4 linked regions of the Homo sapiens genome follow. The protein of the gene in region 3 purifies or fractionates together with the protein of the main gene of each other region. This does not show direct contact. Each region holds a gene or a part of one and is shown on either strand. Other genes may lie near its edges.

Region 1 (5,123 bases), on a different chromosome or scaffold from region 3:
GCAGTGTGAAAAAGGACTAATATAGAGAATTGGTACCAGGATAGTGAGGTACTGCTATAAAGATAATCTGAAAATGTCAAAGCAACTTTGGAACTGGGTAACGGGCAGAGGCTGGAACAGTGTGAGGGCTCAGAAGAAGACAGGAAGATGTGGGAAAGTTTGGAAATTCTTAAAGACTTCTTAAATGGTTCTGAACAAAATGCTAATAGTGATATGAACAATGAAGTTCAGGCTGAGGTGGTCTCAAATAGAGATGACGAACTTACTGGGAACTGGAGTAAAGGTCATTCATGCAATGCTTTAGCAAAGAGACTGGTGGCATTTTGCCCCTGCCCTAGAGATCCGTGGAAGCTTGAATTTGAGAGAGATGATTTAGAGTGTCTGGTGAAAGAGATTTCTAAGCACCAAAGCATTCAAGAAGTGACCCGGTTGTTTCTAAAAGTGTATAGTCACATGCATTCATGAAGAGATTATTTGAATTTGGAACTTATATTTAAAAGGGAAGCACAGCATAAAAGTTCAGAAAATTTGCAACCTAACCATGAGGTAGAAAAGAAAAACCTATTTCTTGGGGGGAAATTCAAACCTGCTGCAGAAATTTGTATAAGTAACAAGGAGCCAAATATTAATAGCCAAAACAATGGGAAAAATGTATCCAAGGCATGTCAGAGACATTTGCAGAAGCCCCTCCCATCACAGGCCCAGCGGCCTAGGAGGGAAAAATGGTTTTGTGGGCCTGAGTGGCCCTGCTGCTCTGTGCAGCCTCAAGACATGGTGCCCTGCATCCAGCTGCTCTAGCTCCAGCCATGGCTAAAAGGAGCCAAGGTACAGCTCAAGCCATTGCTTCTGAGGGTGCAAGCCCTAAACCTTGGCAGCTTCCATGTGGTGTTGGGTCTGTGGGTACACAGAAGACAAGAAGAGTTTAGAAGACAAGAGTTTAACCTCCACCTAAATTTCAGAGGATGTATGGAAACACCTGAATGTCCAGGCAGAAGTCTGCTGCAAGGGAGGAGCCCTCATGGAGAACCTTTGCTAGGGCAGTACAGAAGGAAAATGTGGGGTTGAAGGCCCCACACAGTCCCCACTGGGGCACTGCCTACTGGAGTTGTGAGGAGAGAGCCACTGTCCCCCAGGCCCCAGAAAGGTAGATTCACTGACAGCTTGTATTGTACAGCTGGAAAAGCCACAGGCACTCAATGCCAGCCAGTGAAAGCAGCCATAAGGACTGCACCTTTCAGAGCTACAAGGGTAGAGCTGCCCAAGGCCATGGGAGCCTACCCCTTGGATGTGAGATATGGAGTCAAAGGAGATCATTTCAGAGCTTTAAGATTTAGTAACTGCACTGCTGGGTTTCAGACTTGCATGGGGCCTGTGGCCCCTTTGTTTTGGCCAATTTCTCCCATTTGAAACATTTAGCTAATGCCTATAGCCCTACTGTATCTTAGAAGTAACTAACTTGTTTTTTATTTTATAGGCTCATAGGCAAAAGGGACTTGCCTTGTCTCAGATGAGACTTTGGACTTGGACTTTTGGGTTAATGCTGGAATAAGTTAAGACTTTGGGGGACTGTTGGAAAGTCATGATTGGTTTTGAAATGTGAAAAAGACATGAAATTTGGGAGGCGCCAGGAGTGGAATGATATGGTTTGGCTTTATATCCCCACCCAAATCTCATCTTGAATTGTAATCCCCATGTGTCCAGGGAGGAACCCGGTAGGAAGTGATCGGATCATGGGGGCAGTTTCCCCCATGCTGTTCTTGTGATAGTGAGGGAGTTCTCAAAAGATCTGATGGCTTTAAAAGTGGCAGTTTCCCCTGCTTTCTCTCTCTCTCTTTCTCTCTCTCCTGCTGCCTTGTGAAGAAGGTTATCTACTTCCCCTTCACCTTCTGCCATAATTTTAAGTTTCCTGAGGCCTCCCCAGTCATGTGGAACTGTGAGTCAATTAAACCTCTTTCCTTTATAAATTACCCACTCTCAGGTATTTCTTTATAACAATGTGAAAACAGACTAATACAATACCTATCATTATTGACTTCTCAGCTTCTATCATTATCAAAAAGTAAATAATTGATTCATTTTTTAAAGTAAACAAGATTTTAACTCTTGAAATGTATAAGCAAATACATTTCCTCCATAACAGAATACTAATAGTTGTATACTTAGGTCAAAAATAAGTTTTTATAAGCAATGCTCAAAAACCTCAATGGATCAAATATGTTATAAAAATTCAGCAAATTGATAAACCTTGTTATTTGACTATGAGAACAAATTTTAACTCATTTTTAAATTGTGATAAGCCAACTCATTAGTCTGAAAATTAGAAATTAATATATTACATTGATTTATGTCATCTTTAAAGTCACTTTAACTCACTCTCAGTAGCACAGTGTTTTAAGTCAGAAAGCAGTGAAATAAAATTGTCAATTCACTCTTATTTTTCTATTCTCACTGAACTTTTAAAAATTTTTATTATATATTCAGCAGCATTAGAATAAGCAAAGCCAAAGGCATTTTATGGGACTCAAAAGACATAATGACCTCTGCAGACACCAGTTAAACAATAGACAGAAGAATTTGATTCCTACTTCGATGCTAGGTTTAGCAACCATTCACACAGATAATGTCCATGTTTTTCTTTCTTTTCATTTCACCAAGACCTTCACTCCTCAAAGCCTAAAATATATCTAAATCTTGGATTTCTCTTTTTTGCTTCATCTGACAACTTGAAAATTGACTGTTGGACACATAGCCATCAAGTGGTAAAGTGGGTAACTGGAAAAGTTCTAACTTGTTTTACATTTTTCAAACCCTATTATAATAAGAGCAAATAATAATACTAGCTCATATTTATTCAATGCTGGTCTGTGATACAGACTACTAATAAACTTAGTTTGCAAATAAAAACACTCAAGTTTAGGAAAAATATGTGACATACGCAAGGTCTCACAACAGGTAACTTACAAAGCTGGGATTCAAATCCAAGATTGACTAAAACCATGCTATACGTCTTTATTATATACTCTCTTCCACAGAAGAAAATGACCCATTAGTTGCTCTTCTATTTCACAACACAGCTTCCCTGAACATACTGGTGGAAAAAAAAAAAACAGAAATTGGCTATGTTCATTATCAACTTTTTTTTTTAATAACTTTCTTTTAAGACAGGGTCTCACTCTGTTGTCCAGGCTGGAGTGCAATGGCACGAACTCAGCTCACTGCAACCTCCACCTCCCATGCTCAAATGATTCTTGTGCCTCAGCCACCAAATAGCTGGGACTACAGGTGTGCACCACCACACCCAGCTAATTTTTTTATTTTTAGTAGAGGCGGGGTTTTCGCCATGTTGGCCAGGCTGGTCCCAAACTCCTGGCCTTCAGTGATCTGCCCACCTCGACCTTCCAAAGTGTTAGGATTACAGGCATGACTCACTGCACTCAGCCTCATTTATTAATTTATTCAACAAATATTTACTAGCTCCTTAAAACTCTCATTTGAGCTTAAATCCTTTTAAGTATTTTTGAGTATCTGGCATATGCAATGGACTGAATATATCCCCACAAAACCCACATGTTGAAATCTTAACCCCCCAGTGTAATGGTTTTAGGACGTAGGGCCTCTGGGGGGTAATTAGGTCATGAATGTAGAGCCCTCATGAATGGGATTAGTGCTCTTATAAAAGGGATTTCCCAAACCTCTCTCATTCTCTTTCCACCACCTGCAGATACAATGAAAAGACAGCAGTAGTCTTTGACCTAAAAGAGGGCCCTCATCAGAACCCAAACATGTGGGCACCCTGACCTTGGACTTCCAACCTCCAGAATAGTAAGAAATAAATTTCTGTTCTTTATAAGGCACCCAGTCTATAATACTTTGTTACAGCAGCCTGAACAGACTGAGGCAGAAACTGGTGCCAAGAATTAGGGGTGCTGCTGTAACAAATACCTAAAAAGGTTATCTTCATTTATTTTTCACATAACCAAGCAAAATATGTGAAACAGTAAACTCTGACTGTTGAAGCCATTTAATTGTTTTCTATTACACTAACATTCAAGGCATCCTGATACAAACGCTTACCAAAAAGTGCATTTGAAAAGAAAACGAGGAAGTCTAACTAGAATAGCAGTACGCAAAACAAATTTAAAAAATTAAAAAACAGAAGTGTGTCTTCGGTTCAAGAAATCAGCTGCAAAATCACAGAATGATGTAAAACTGGTTTAATAGCAGTTCAAATAACAAAAGAGGTAAGTGTGTTACTAGCAGACTCAAAGTAACCTAACACTAAGACATGGCTGAGAACAATGTATAGCCACTTTAGGTAATATTATTAGAGCTAGGGGCTCAAGACTATGGTGGTAAAATCTTATAAAGCTTAGCCCTTCATCACATTTCTGGAATAAATTAGGTATATGTTGAAAGGGGAGTTGAAAAACAGGATTATCAAAGGAGGCTATCAGAAGGATGAAAGACGTACAGATCATGTCATCTGAGGACAGGACAATGAAATGACAAGTGCACAGTCTGGAAGAGAGCACGATGGCTATTTTCAAGAGGTTTCCTGGACAAGAGGGGCTGGACCTGGTCTTGCCACTTCAGAGAAAGACACTAAAAGCAGCAGTTGGTTGCTATAGAAGGTAGAGTTGGGATTACAAGAAGCAGTTTCTTAATAATCAGAACAACCTAAAAGTCAAATAAGTTATCTCAAGAGAAAGTGAAATTTACTTTCACTGACAGGAAGTAAAGACTGAGTGAGCATCCATCCAGGATATCCTAGAACAGTATTTTCCAGAGAGTAGTTACACCAGAGATTATTTTAACTGGTACATACATTTATTTTATTCATTACTTACTTATCTCAATGTACACTAAAAACAAATAAATGTACATACTAAAGTAGCCATCAACCCCATTGTTTCATGAATATTACTGTTTTAGGATAAATGAAGCAACGACTTTACTTGATTGAAAGAAAAACATTAAGTCAATATATTGAATTTACCTTAACTAGCTATATTATTTTATGATGTCAGTTATCATCCTTGAATTTATATAGATAATAAAAGGCACCAAAGATTTAAGAAAAAGGAAAAAAAAAACTTCTGAAAAGAAAAATATTTTTTAAAAAA
Region 2 (3,828 bases), on a different chromosome or scaffold from region 3:
TGCTGATAGATGTTAAATCAAAGGCAAATAATTTTGAAAACGATTTGGGACAGGTACAGTTGTCCTCTGCTTACAATCTTCTCTCTTATCTCAGCCAATAGCTACTTGCTAACTGGATAGTAAAATGACATGAGCATGTATGAGTTTACAGCCTGATGTAATTATGTAATCAATAGCTGATTTACTTCACTCATTATATTTTGGTTAAAGTTGCTCTTGTCGCATGTTTGCATTCTTCCTTGTCAACGATGTCTGGGCATCAGAGGAGGAGGCAGGAAATGTACTTCACTAAAGACCACTGGGAATAAAGAGTGGCCATCAGTCTAGATTGCAGAGGGAAACAATCTCCATGTCAGTATATATATATGAATTACGTGACAGCAGGTCACAGAGAGAACAATGGACCATGAAAGCAAAGATTTGATTTCCATCTGTTAACTTACTCATCTGGGCAAGTTCCTTTTTTTTTTAAACAGGGTCTCACTCTGTCACCCAGGGTGGAGTATGCAGTGGCATGATCCCAGCTCACTGCAGCCTCAACATCCTGGACTCGGGTGATCCTACCACTTCAGTCTCCCAAGTAGCTGGGACTATAGGCATATACCTGGCTAATTTTTGTATTTTTGGTACAGATAGCGTTTCACCATGTTGCCCAGGCTGGTCTTGAACTCCTGGGCTCAAGTGATCATGTACCTCAGCCTCCCAAATTACTGGAATAACAGGTGTGAGCCACTGCACCCAGCTCCTTTTCTGATTTCTGATTCCTACATATAAAATGGGTAAAATATGGATAACACTTATCAAACATAGCCCAAAAGTTGTTTAAACAATGAAATAAAAATGGCTATGAAGCACGTCACATACTGAAACATACTTAAAAAAAAAAAGGCAATATGAAAGAAAACAAGCCACAGACCTTAAATATAAACACCTCCTCAAACACCACAAGAGACAAAAATTTGTAAAGTTAAGGAGGGTAACTTATAAAAGTACAACTTCCCAGTTTATATGAAAATGGTTTAATAATACTGAAACTTAAAAGCTGATAAAATTTATTGGCTACGACTACATTTTTTCTCCAATCACAGCAAATATTATGAGACACTTATCAATGCAAAGCTTTTGATCCTTTATCATGTACTCTGAACCCTATGCACTACTAAATAGGCAATATGATACAATCAAAGGTTTCTTTGGCAGACATAATTATATGTACCAAAACATTAAACTGCGTATTTTCCCTTAAACTTACCTGACTAAAGGCATCTGATCAAAAGACAAAAAGTGAACAATTTTAATAAGTAGTTGCATTTATCAATAAGAGTCTACAAGGTAACAAAAAGTGTAAAGAGACATCTTTTTGAAAATTCATATAAAACAAACCTTCCATGTTATTAGATCAACAAATATAATCACCTGGGTATATTTTATTAGGGAAAAATGACAATATTGATAATAAAAAGAGAAAGGAAAAATGAAAATGCATCTCAGACCAGAATACCATAACAAAACTTTTGTGGAAGCTGCATTTTATTTGAAAATCCACCCATTTTGCTAACATACATTTTAATATTGTAAACAAAAATAGAATCTGCAGAGACAATGCAACAAGAATGCTTAAACTCATGTACAGAATTGCTTTCCTACAATGAACTGTCCTTCTTAAGGCCCCTCTCCACCCAAATGTTAAAGATGTATTTACACAAAGCACCGATCAACAGTGCAGTTTAATTCTTCGTTTACTAAACTCTTGGCTAGACATTAACTTTAAAGATACTATTTCCCCTTATTTAAAAGGTATATGATCATAACATGGCACGAGCCAAAGAAAATGTTCAAGGACTTTGCCCCCCTTCCCTCCCCCTTGTAACACCTTCTAGAGTTTTAGTGAAAAGAAGGAAAGTCTTGAAGTGAAAGCAATTCCTCACATTCATTTTGGAAAGGCCCTAATGTCAAATGGAAAATAATGACATGCCAAGCACAAAGCAGTAAAGATCCTTCCCAATGCACTAATGCTGAATTTAAAATGTAGTGCTTTTCCTAGTCAGTGAACTGTTCCCTGGCAAAATCCTAGGCACAGAATTGACTATAAGGATTAATGCATTTATAATGCTTCCCTAAATCCCACAGAGGCCGAGAATTCTTAAGAGATTCAGACCTATGGACTTGCCTTAAAATATTTAGTGCTCTGTATGTCAGCTGAGAAAAGCATTCTGAATCAGATTCATTCTTGTGGATAAAAATCAAACATACTGTGCACATCCATACTCATTTTCATAAGGAGGTCTGATACAATATTAATGTTATGTAAAATTGATAATCATAAATAAATACAAATACTTAAGGAATGTCTACTGCAAACTGAATATAATTTTTTTTAAAAAAAGAAAAGTTAATTTCAGTTATTGTTTCTGTATTTGTGAGGACTGGAGAAAAGAAAGATAATGCATAATTAGGAATTTTAATTTTGATCCCCCAAAAGAGTCCTGTTGAAATACAGTAAAGGACACAGTTCTTCTCTCCAGGCAGCTTTTCCAAATACAAATTTCACACTTTCCAAATAAGGGCTTTTCTTGATAGGTTACTGATTATGGGTATTAACAGGAGTTGAAAGAATTGAAGGGTTAGTCACCAAAAAGACAGATCTTAGTCTTAAATCATAGCAATTCTTGGCTTTATAAACTGTATTGATACGTTCTCCTATAAACTAGTCCCAATTTCCTTCATGGGCCTTCACTGAGTTACTTGTAGCATTCTAATGGAAGAAGAGAGTTTAAGAGATTTAAGAGACAGCAGTTTGGATTTTGCTGGAAGTAAGGATTTTGCTGCTTGAGCACTTGTCTTTTTGGAGTAATTCCATTTTCTTCCATCAAGTTACATAAACTGTATCTGGAAAAAAAAAGTGGGTATGTTAATTCATTGTATTGTAGGATGTCTTCTCATAAATAAAAATGCTTTGTGGTCTTTACCATTTAACTGGCCCAGAAGTGTTCACAACATGCTTATCACAAACCCTGTTTATAAAACAAAGTCAGTATTATCAACTTATGTGCCAGAAAGCTCAATATTTGACACATATAGGGACTTCCAAATAATGTTTTTTGTTGTTGTTTTTGAGACAGAGTCTTGCTCTGCTGTCTAGGCTGGATTGCAGTGGCATGATCAAAGCTCAATGGCTGGGCACCATAGCTCACACCTGTAATCCCAGCACTCTGGGAGGCTGAGGTGGGCAGATCACCTGAGGTGAGTTCGAGAGTTCGAGACTGGCCTGGCCAATATGGTGAAACCCCGTCTCTACTAAAAATACAAAAATTAGCCAGGCGTGGTGGCGGGCGCCTGTAATCCTAGCTACTCGGGAGGCTGAGGCAGGAGAATGGCTTGAACCCAGGAGGTGGAGGTTGCAGTGAGCTGAGATCGTGCCACTGCACTCCAGCCTGGGAGACAAGAGCGAAACTCCATCTCAAAAAAAAAAAAAAAAAAAAAAAGCTCATTGGAACTCCTGGGCTCAAGCAACCCTCCTGCCTCAGCCTCCTGAATAGCTAGGACTGCAGACAGTCGCCACCACACCTGGGTAATTTTTGGGTGGGGGTAGAGACTAGGGTCTCACCGTATTGCCCAGGCTGATCTTGAACTACTAGCCCCAAGTGATCCTCCCGCATCAGCCTCCCAGGGTGCTGGGATTACAGGCATAAGCAACCACATCCAGGCCAAATACTTAACTGCTAAAAATAGAGGAATAGCATGTGGAGGAGGAAAAGAAAGAAGATCAATGACCTATTTTTTCATGACAAGTTCAGAAAAATCTCTCCATAAGCACAAATACCACAA
Region 3 (5,496 bases):
TTCAACTCTTATGTGAGAAGTATTTCATAAGGCAATAGCTACCATATATAGTGATTCCTCTGACAGCTCTGGGCAGAGTAAACTGAAACCTTATGAAAATAATTCACCATTCTAGATGCCATTAAGAATATTTGTGATTCATGGGAGGAGGTCAAAATATCAACATTAACAGGAGTTTGAAAGAAGCTGATTCCAATGCTCATGGATAACTTTGAGGCCTTTAAGACTTCAATGGAGAAAGTCACTGCAGACGTGGTGGAAATAGGAGAACTAGAATTAGAAGTGGAGCCTGCAGATGTGACTGAATTACTACAATCTTGTGCTAAACTTGAAGGGATGAGGAGTTGCTTCTTATGGATGAGCAAAGAAAGTGGTTTCTTGAGATGGATCTACTCCTGGTGAAATGACAGAAAGGATTTAGAATATTACACAAACTTAGTTGATAAAGTAGCATCAGGGTTTGAGAGGATTGCCTCCGTTTTTGAAAGAAGTTCTACTGTGGGTAAAATGCTATCAAACAGTAGCACATAAATCTTCTGTGAAAGGATGAGTAAATCAATGCAGTAAACTTAAACTTCATTACTGTCCTATTTTAAGAAATTGTCATAGCCACCCAACCTTCAGCAACCGCCACCCTGGTCAATCACCATTCATCAACCTCAAGGCAAGACCTTCCACCAGCAAAAAAGGACTATATGACTCACTGAAGGCTCAGATAATTGTTAGCTTTTTTAGCAATAGAGCATTTTAAAATTAAGATACGTATATTGTTTAGACATAATGCTAATGCACACTTAATAGACTATGGCATAGTATAAACGTAATTTTTATATGTACTGGGAAACCAAAAAATTTGTGTGACTTGTTGTGGTTGTCTGGAACTGAACCCACAATATCTCCAAGGTATGCTTGTGTGGTATCTAGGTATATGTATTCTTTTTCTTTTTTTTTTTCTATTTGAGACGAAGTCTCACTCTGTTGCCCAGGCTGGAGTGCAATGGTGCTATCTCAGCTGACTGCCATCTCCACCTCCCGGGTTCAAGCGATTCTCCTGCCTCAGCCTCCTGAGTAGCTGGGCTTACAGACACGCACCACCACGCCCGACTAATTTTTTTTATTTTTAGTAGAAACTGGGTTTCACCATGTTAGCCAGGCTGGTCTCGAACTCCTGACCTCAGGTGATCTGCCCTCCTCGGCCTCCCAAAATGCTGGGATTAAAGGCATGAGCTATCGCGCCTGGCCGTATTCTTACTTTTTAATCAGGAAAAACAAACAAACAAACAAACAAACAAAAACCAACCCTCAACTGGGAGAAAATAAGCACTGCAGAAATCTGAAAGTTAGCTGGTCTAAAAATTATTTTCTGTAGTTGAGAACATAGACTTTCTAAAGTTGAGATCTCAAATAAGAGAAGGATGACAGTTTGCTTTTCCAATGACTTAACTAGTTTTTATATATAAATCCATATATTAAAATCTTAAAGCAGGAAGATGTATTTGGAAATCTATTATCAATGGGAAAATCCTCTCTTCGTGATGCATATATGCACTGCCAGTGTATTATTAACAATGAGAAAATTCTCACTGTTCTCATTTAAGAAGTTGGTAAATTAACATAAATTAATGGTGAACGAAATTTTACCGGCTCATATAAATAAACCCAAGTGCGCACACACACACACACGCACACACATACACACACACACATGGTCTGGCCCATTCTTCTCAACCAAAAGGCCAGGAATAAAAATGAACAAGATAAGGATTTTCATCTAAGTTAGGTTTTTACTCATTTTCAGTGAGAGTGAATATTCTAGTAATTTTGCCTCTTACCTGAGACATATGCTTTATTAAGAGAAAGAGAAGGAAGGTGTTATTGGACCGTGAAACGTTTTTCCTTCTCTCTTGGGTGTCTACATTTACCATACCTTAGCCATGAGTGTTGTTCCAAATCCACCCTGATAGTTATTAGCCGAGGGAACGCCATCCATCACTCCAGGTACAGGATTATAAGTGTCACTTGACCAACACCGTCCTGAGCTCATATTTAGGATTTTAGCCAGTAGTTTTGGGTCAAGCCCTAACCTGTCAAAGGTCAAAGAAAAGAAGTGTTAAGTGTCAAAATGTACACGTCGTGCGTGACTTATTTATGTATGGGGATGCTCCATCTTCTCTCTCCATTTATTATATGTCTTCTAAAATCTAAGCAGGTTGATACGAGAGTGAAGAATCCAATTTTGAATTATAGAGTACTAAACACTACTGGTTAAATAAGAATATTTTTGAGCCAGGACCATTTTGCATTTGGAGAAAACCTTCTATGTTATCCTATTATTAAGAAAAAATAATATACAATTGCATAAAAATATTGTTGGTTTATCACACTCATGGGTTTTCTAGTCTTTGGACATTACTACATTTATATGTCACATAAGAACCTTAAAACAATATGATAATTTAAATTCTACATTCTTTACCCACAAATGATATATTTCAGAAAGAAATACTGACAGATAAACGATGCATCATGGGAGTCTGTGTGAATGCATTTATATGTATGTTTATTCCTTTAGTTTTTATGAGAATAAATGCAAGAGATGAGCCAGGAGCTGTAAACGAGCTTAAGAAAAGTTATTATAAAAGAAGACTTTTTGCTGCAAACTTTTCCTTATTTATTAAATCTTTATTAGACAATCTTGCTTATGAAGCAAGTCTGCACAGAGTTGTGACATATGCTATCTATTCAGAGACATGCATTATAGTTCTGGGTCAACTGCTGATAAGGTTACTGATCCTGATAAAACAAAGCTTGCCCAAGCAGAAACATCATTTGTTCTATCACTGGGCTGATGGCATAAACGGCTGTTCAATGTGGACCCTAGAAAAAATAATAGAATCAAAATGCTCCATTACTTGGATTCTAAAGATATAATGCAGTTTGGGAAGCACAATTTTGCTAGGTATCACTGAATCAAGTTTCAAATAAAACTTTATTCCTAGCAATTTATTTGGTTTCTTTCATACACAGAGCCATTATGAAACAATTGTCATAAAAGCTTTCCACTTTTTCTTAAAACCAACCTCTTCCAGAAAATAAAAAAAACACTGAAAAGAGACACTTATGTAAATGTTAAACAAACTGTGCATCTTGGCACGCTCAGATTGTTTACTCTGTGTGTCTAAAACACATGCCTGTTTATTTCAAAATCTGAATATCATGGCCAATAAAACATTTTTTCAGATGCTAGAGCAGGGGGCTGAGGCTAACAGCCAAAAATATGTATGGAATTACCACATAATACAACTGTTATGTAATCAGGCTTTCAAGGGGTAGCTGTGGTTCCCAGACTGCTATGTGGCATATCATGTATCTGAATTCATATGGTGGCCCATGTTATAGTGATGGATTTTACTAAGGATTGTAACAGATACAGAAATTCAGTCTAAATTGGCTATCATTCATTCTGTTCAACTGTAGATTCCCAGAGAGAAACCCAACAGTTTCATTCATTCTTTTATAAAGATCCAAGTTCACTGCATGCATAGTATGCTACTGATGCTTGCTTTCTCCTTTTAAATAAGATTAGGCTATCAGTATGCTACTGTAGTATATCACTTAGGAAAAGATAAAGCCAGTGTGCTTAGGGAATAATTGTGAAAAGTAAAATCACAATTAACAATTAGTTAATTTGCTATAACTGCAAAGTACCAAATGTTCAAGAATGCATACATCTAATATGCTCCATAAGGAGAAAATACTTTTAAAGACTCCAAAACGTCACTTTCTCTCTCCATTTGAAATATAATTTCAGGGCTTCCTAACTTAGATCTTTTAAGATGGTTCATCATATTTAAAGCAGCAGAATTCCTTCCTTCTTTCTAATCTACCAGGTTACACTCAGTAGTAGCTCACAAGAGCTTTTACAGCTAAGGAAATTCACTCTTTTCTATAATATTCAACAAAATGGTGAGCAAAGCTAATTATCCTAACTTTGTAAAACCCTACATTTTTCTTGAATGTTCAAGGAAAAGTACTGGTATTGATTGATGGAAACCCTTTCTGGTGAACACATTACTATTTAGAAGCATCCTGAGGGGCACACACAAAAAATCAGGTGGCAGTTGTTTCATTCTCACTTTTCAAATCTGATGCTTCCCCACCGTGCTGATTCCCTTCAGGAGATAGTTATTCCCTCTCCACTTCCCTCCCCCTGCCCCCACCCGCAGCAAAGTGTATCATTAAAAAGAGCAAGTTAGAAGTGTTTTGCATTTCATCTTTCTGAGGATTCGTTCTCTGGCACATACATAACTGACAGTTAAAATTAGACATGATATTAAAATCAGTTACTGAAGTCCTCTGTTTTCCACTGTGCCCAAGGCTTGTAATGGTCTGAAACCAGCTAGAATACACAGTAATTGTCATTCAGAGTCTATCCTAGAACGTCATGCTTCACTGGAGAAGACTGAGTTTCCATTCGAAATCAACAAATTAATCCAAGACAGGTATCTGAAAGGGCAAGTTTAATAGGAAGCAGCTACTGGGCTCTCAACCATGATAAAATGTTATTGCTGTTTCCCTGTAAATTGGCTGGGAACATATGATACTTTCTGCATAAGAGCCCCATTGCTGTTCAGAAGATATACAGCTCAAGCCATCAAAAGAATGACAGTCTGTCAGTCCCCATAATAACTTGCCACTGGATGTGGTTCGAGAGTGCATGCGTGCATGCATGTGGCTTTACAATTGCTGGAATGTTCTCTGATATAAACAGAATGAATTCATCGCTCTGACTGCATATATAATGCGTCTCAAATAAACGTCACTGTGTCAAATCTACTCACCTCTAAAACAAGAATTTTAAATGAGGTTTGGAAGAAGTAAAAATAATGCATAAACTGCAAAAAAATTTAAAAAATTAAACATTTGCCTTCACTGTAACCAAGACTTTAAGGGCCAAAAATGTTTGTTTATATTATCTGTGAGTAATCTATACTGTCTGGTTTCACGTAAGAACGAAATAAATTATGTCACTAAACTGGGATGTTTGTATCACAGGAACAGATCTGGAAATGAAACATCTAAGACCATGTCAGTTTTAATTAATCAATCACTTATCCATCAATGTTTACTCAGATCTGCTATATCCAAGTGCTACACGTGCAGCGAAGGAGACAGTAAGAAGGAAGCTAAGAGGAGGCTGTGCCTGTCTGCCAGGAGGGCTGAGTTAAGACCCACCTGGATAACTTTTACCTTTGGCAAGAGAAGTGCCATATCTTATCCCCTCACTCACTCACTCCCCTACCTCCTCCCTCCTCTCCTTATTTATCTGACAAATCTTCACTGGGTGCCTAATACCTGCCAGGTATATTCTTAAGATATGGCAATGAGTAAACAAACCATTTCCCATCATGGAGCTTCTAGATGGGAAGACAGGTAATAAACAGACAAATAAATATGTAATGCCAGCTAGTGAGACATGTTAGGAAGAAAAAGATT
Region 4 (5,123 bases), on a different chromosome or scaffold from region 3:
ACCATGACCACGTGGTCAGCAAAATCTACACTGTGGGAAGCCATGGGACAAACAGCCCAGGCTCTTCAACAGATAAACGGCAGGGAAAACAGTGAGGCCGACGGGACTGCAAATGGACACTGAAGTAGATAAAAAAATAAACAAAAAAAAGCAGACAAGACTAAACTGCCATCAAAAAACCAAGAAAGTCATTTCTGTAAAAGTCAGGATTACTTGTTGGGGCAAGGAGGGGGAGAAGAAGAGGGCTGTGGCTGGAGGGGCACTTGGGAGAGCCTCCTGGGGTATCTGGCAAAGTACTATTTCTTCACCAGGTGGTGGACACAAAGGTTATTCACCTTACAATCATAATCATTCAATAAGCTATACATTTGTTTTGTGTCACTTCCTGTATGTTTTTATAATAAAAAGGTTTAAAACTAAATAAATAATCATGTCAAACTTTTACTACTTTTTTTTTTTTTTGAGACAGAGTCTCACTCTGTTGCCCAGGATGGAGTGCAGTGGTGCAATCTTGGCTCACTGCAACCTCTGCCGCCTGGGTTCAAGTGATTCTTGTGCCTCAGCCTCCCAAGTAGCTGGGACTACAAGCCCGTGCCACCACACCTGGATAATTTTTGTAATTTTAGTAGAGACAGGGTTTCGTCATGTTGGCCAAGCTGGTCTCAAACTCCTGACCTCAAGTGATCTGCCCGCCTTGGCCTCCCAAAGTGCTAGGATTACAGAAGTGAGCCACTGTGCCCAGCCGGTGTCTTACTTTTTTTTTTTTTTTTTTAATTTGCACAGTTTTTAACGAAAGAGCCAAATAAATTTTTGAAAGTTTATTTATGCTTCTTGGTCTTTATGAGTCGCAGCTGTTCCTAGAGAATGGCCTAGCAGCCAGGGTCGCCGCAGGCAGGCTTTGCCCTATACTAACTGCCCAGCAAGCAGGCACATGGGGCTGAGACCCAGCACACATCCTGCCCACTGAGCTGTCCGCCCAGGCCCTGGGCAGCATGTTCCTTTAATGTACCCATGGGCACAAGTCACCTATACAAGCAGGAGACTCAAACCTGTCAACTGGACGGTAAATGGATGCTTTCAGAATACTTCCAGACTTCTGAGTTGCATCTTTTAACCAATGGTTTTTTGATTTCTTATCAAAATATAAGCCACAGCATTTTAGGCCATTTGCCTTGCTTGCCTGCAATAAAACAAGCAAGGACAGTATTGAACCCAGTAAACATAATGTGGAAATCTCACATAATTCTCCAATCTCAAAGATGTTCAATTTATTATATACTTAACCATTTTTTATAAACACATGTCACAGAAGGCCACTGTGCCTGATTCCGTGTGAAAGACGCATCTGCCCATCACTGCAATGGTCCTACCTGCAGGCTATTTTCCACACCAGTAAGTACAGGCAGCAAGACAGCCGCTGGCTCAAGTTCTCCCAAGGACTAAAGTCACATGGCTCAGTCTTCCGATTGTTTAGCTCCTTCTCTGGCTAATCTGTCAGCTTCTTCATTGCCTATAAATCCCGAATGACCAGGAACATGCATCTGTTAAGATAAATGTTTTCCTTTTATTTTTACTCATCTTTACATAAGCAACACATGACTATATTGTCATCATAAAAAACCATTCAGAACAGACTGCACAGCATAAGCTCAACTTCAACGCTCCTCTCCCCAGACATGATCCTCAACAGCACGCTGTCCATTCTTCATGCGTTTACGCAATGGATGTGATTTACGAACATTCCATTTTGTTTTTTCACAAATTGGATTTTACCGTTCATGTTGCTATTTCCTCCCCACTTATCAATGGGACTTGATAAGCTTTCCAGGCAAAACACATGTATGTACAGATGGGTGGACGGATATGTATGCAACACACACACACGCTTCCCTTGCAGTGCTGTCAGAAATAATGTACTTATTTAACCACTGTTTACATTTATGTTGCCAAAGCAAATTTACACATCAGGCTACCAAACTATTATCAGTGGTTCCAGGAAGGCAGAACAAGGCAGGGTTGAGACAGTGGCTGCAGTGTAATTTGTTCTCTATTGCTTGAAAAAAACTTTTTAATAAACATGATCTATGATTTTAAAAAGTGCTTCCATCTTGGAATAAAAGTTCTATTACCAAGGCTTTAATCATACAACCTTACTATTGTTTGAAACAAAATACACTGATAGTTTTATTTAACATTATGATGCATTCCAAAGAAATGAACAGGGTGACATACAGCTGTCATAGTAATGCCATGTGCCCAGGTTGGGTGTTACTTCGTGTTCTTAACAAAATATAAGGATTGTAGAACATCCCTCAAACCACACTGCCTGTGTATTCTATGCCTAGTGACACTCTCACTAGAATTGTATTACTTGTGGTTGCAGCGAGCCGAGATTGCGCCACTGCACTCCAGCCTGGGCAACAGTGCGAGACTCCATCTCAAAACAATAAAAAAAAGTTTGACATGATTATTGATTTAGTTGTAAACCTTTTTGTCATAAAACAAAAACATATAGGAAGTGACACAAAACAAATGTAATCCCAGCACTTTGAGAGGCCAAGGCAGGTGGAATGTTTGAGATCAAGAGTTCAAGACCAGCCTGGGTAACATGACAAAACTCCATCGCTACTAAAAATACAAAAATTAGCCAGGCGTGGTGGCATATGCCTGTAATCCCAGATACTTGGGAGGCTGAGGCACGAGAATCACTTGAACCCAGAAGGCAGAGGTTGCAATGAGATCACGCCATAGCCTGGGGTGACAGAGTGAGACCTGTCTCAAAAACCAAACCAAAAAACTGTATTACTTGTATGATAAGGAAAATAATCAAATTTGTGTATGTGGGTGGGTTTGTTTTGTTTTTCTGAGACAGGGTCTCACTCTGTCGCCCAGGCTAGAGTACAGTGGTACAATCTTGGCTCACTGCAACCTCGACCTCCCCAGCTCAAGTCATCCTCCCACCTCAGTGTCCTGAGTAACTAGACTACAGGCATGTGCCACTACCCCTGGCTAATTTTTTATTTTTTCGAGAAACAGAGTCTCCCCATGTTATCCAGGCTGGTCTCGAACTTCTTGGCTTAAGTAGTCAGGCCATTTGGGCCTCCTAAAGTGCTGGGTTACAGATGTGAACCACTGAGCCCAGGCTCACATATTTTTTTTTTTTTTTTGAGACGGGGTCTTGGAGTCTCATATCGTTGCTCAGGCTGGAGTGCAGTGGCGCGATCTCAGCTCACTGCAACTTCCGCCTCCTGGGTTCAAGTGATTCTCCTGCCTCAGCCTCCTGAGTAGCTGGGACTACAGGCACACACCACCATGCCCGGCTAATTTTTGTATTTTTTAATAAAGATGGGGTTTCACCATACTGGCCAGGCTGGTCTTGAACTCCTGACCTCGTGATCCACCCACCTCAGCCTCCCAAAGTGCTGGGATTATAGGCGTGAGCCACTACGCCCAGCCTCAAATACGTTGTAATATACATTATGATATTAATATCATGGAAATTGTTATGTCATTAAACCACTTACATAAACCATTAATCTCTAGTAAACTTAGCTTATTTGGTCATAATGGCCATAGGACATGAACATTTAAGATACTCACCCACTGAATGTCCATCCCCTGGGTAAGCCTCTCCAGTGCCACAAAGTCCTCTTTGTTGATCACCTCTTTCCCTGCACTTGTCTTCCACCCATTTTTCTTCCAACCTTGAACCCAGTTAGTTATACCTACAAAAATGCACGATCACTGGTGAGTCAATCTTGAGTGTCCTGCCTTTTTCACCTCCTTAGTCTTACCTCTTATAATTGATCCCACTTGTATTCTGAGTCACCATCCTTGACTCTTCACTTCCTTAGCTGGCCTTAGTTGCTTTGGCCTTTGGCACAGCCTGAAATACCCTCCTCTCTTCCCTTTCCCCTAACTTGTATTCTACCTACAGCTGTCAGCTTAAGATGTCATTTCTCCCAGGAGCCTTCCCCAGCCTCGTAAGCATCCCCTACATGCTCCTATTCAGGGCATTTCCCAAAGAAGCAGTCAACACGCCATCTTAAGTGACTTATACACACACAGACTAGAAGTAAGAGCCACTTCCACTTCTGACTGCATCTCCAGTGCCTGGCAAAGAAATAAGCATGTGGAAAACATCAGAGCAGCAGAAGGGAGACTCCAAAATCCTCACTCTTTGCTCGGTACCTGACAAACCAATGTCATCCCCCCGTTCCCATTTGGGTCCTGCCCTGTTACAACACCTCCTACCAATTTCCCTTCACAGTTACTGGAAAAACAGAAGAAATCAAATGTGAAAGCTTACCATTTATCGTAAACATACTGTCTGTATACAGAACCAGTTTATTGATGTTTTGAGTCTTTGCTTGTTCAATGGCTTTGCAGGCTGCCTTGAAAAGACAAGTCGATAGTCATGCTACAGAAAATGTTCAACTCTGACATTACTAAAGTTCAAAAGTACTTCGAAATTGAAACATCCCCTCTGTACTGATTATATTCTCTGTATGAAACACTACTATACATACAATTCTCCTGTGTAGACATCTATTTGAAATAAGTTTTTAGAATTTTTCTACAAAATTCCTATTTTTCAAAATTGTTATTAAACCCGTCTCTCTTCAAATATCTTATATGTATAGGTAGAAAAAAAAAGAATTAGTTTATTTGATAATTTCATACTCAATGCTCAAAAAAGAGAGGCTTAAACGTATCTGATAACTTACATGAATTTCCGCTCTTTGGTTTGTCTGCCGCCCAGGAAGTCTAATGCCTACATTTCTGTTTCAAAACAGTACAAAAGAAAATAAAAGTATAAAGTGAATTCTCAAAGTGATTCTTCTTAATGGATAACGATAAACTAGTGTGTATTCTTATTTGAAATATAAAAGCATCATATAAAAATCAAACTAACAGACTCCCAGCAGAGAGCAGCACACAGGTTTCCACACTTGGGCACCTTCTGACTCTCATGGGTTCCACTAGGGCAAAGGAAGTAAAAGCTGGTTCTCTGCGGACCCTGGGTTAGGCCCTATGGCTGCAGCAGAAAGAATCCCAGGAGAAAACTCGGGAAGAAGAATGGAGAGAGTGAGACTTCAGATTGAAACTACTAAAAACCTCCA

The links. Proteins that work in one complex are often made in the same cells at the same time.
Region 1: the proteins of HIBADH (region 3) and PEX7 purify together in Homo sapiens (co-immunoprecipitation; one large-scale study listed by IntAct). This does not show direct contact.
Region 2: the proteins of HIBADH (region 3) and PICALM fractionate together in Homo sapiens (co-fractionation; one large-scale study listed by BioGRID). This does not show direct contact.
Region 4: the proteins of HIBADH (region 3) and RNASEH1 purify together in Homo sapiens (affinity purification with mass spectrometry; one large-scale study listed by BioGRID and IntAct). This does not show direct contact.

Annotation. Positions count from the first base shown.
Region 1 is NC_000006.12:136,827,972-136,833,094, reverse strand, and holds part of PEX7 (peroxisomal biogenesis factor 7), read right to left. Parts: intron 1-5,123. UniProt on the Homo sapiens protein: Receptor required for the peroxisomal import of proteins containing a C-terminal PTS2-type peroxisomal targeting signal. Specifically binds to cargo proteins containing a PTS2 peroxisomal targeting signal in the cytosol.
Region 2 is NC_000011.10:85,956,172-85,959,999, forward strand, and holds the end of PICALM (phosphatidylinositol-binding clathrin assembly protein), read right to left. Parts: intron 2,890-3,828; coding exon 2,875-2,889; 3' UTR 1,004-2,874; downstream 1-1,003. UniProt on the Homo sapiens protein: Cytoplasmic adapter protein that plays a critical role in clathrin-mediated endocytosis which is important in processes such as internalization of cell receptors, synaptic transmission or removal of apoptotic cells.
Region 3 is NC_000007.14:27,529,265-27,534,760, forward strand, and holds part of HIBADH (3-hydroxyisobutyrate dehydrogenase, mitochondrial isoform 1 precursor), read right to left. Parts: intron 2,085-5,496; coding exon 1,928-2,084; intron 1-1,927.
Region 4 is NC_000002.12:3,544,331-3,549,453, forward strand, and holds part of RNASEH1 (ribonuclease H1 isoform 1 precursor), read right to left. Parts: intron 4,783-5,123; coding exon 4,728-4,782; intron 4,395-4,727; coding exon 4,310-4,394; intron 3,726-4,309; coding exon 3,601-3,725; intron 1,562-3,600; coding exon of another isoform or gene 1,542-1,561; coding exon 1,455-1,541; 3' UTR 1-1,454. UniProt on the Homo sapiens protein: Endonuclease that specifically degrades the RNA of RNA-DNA hybrids.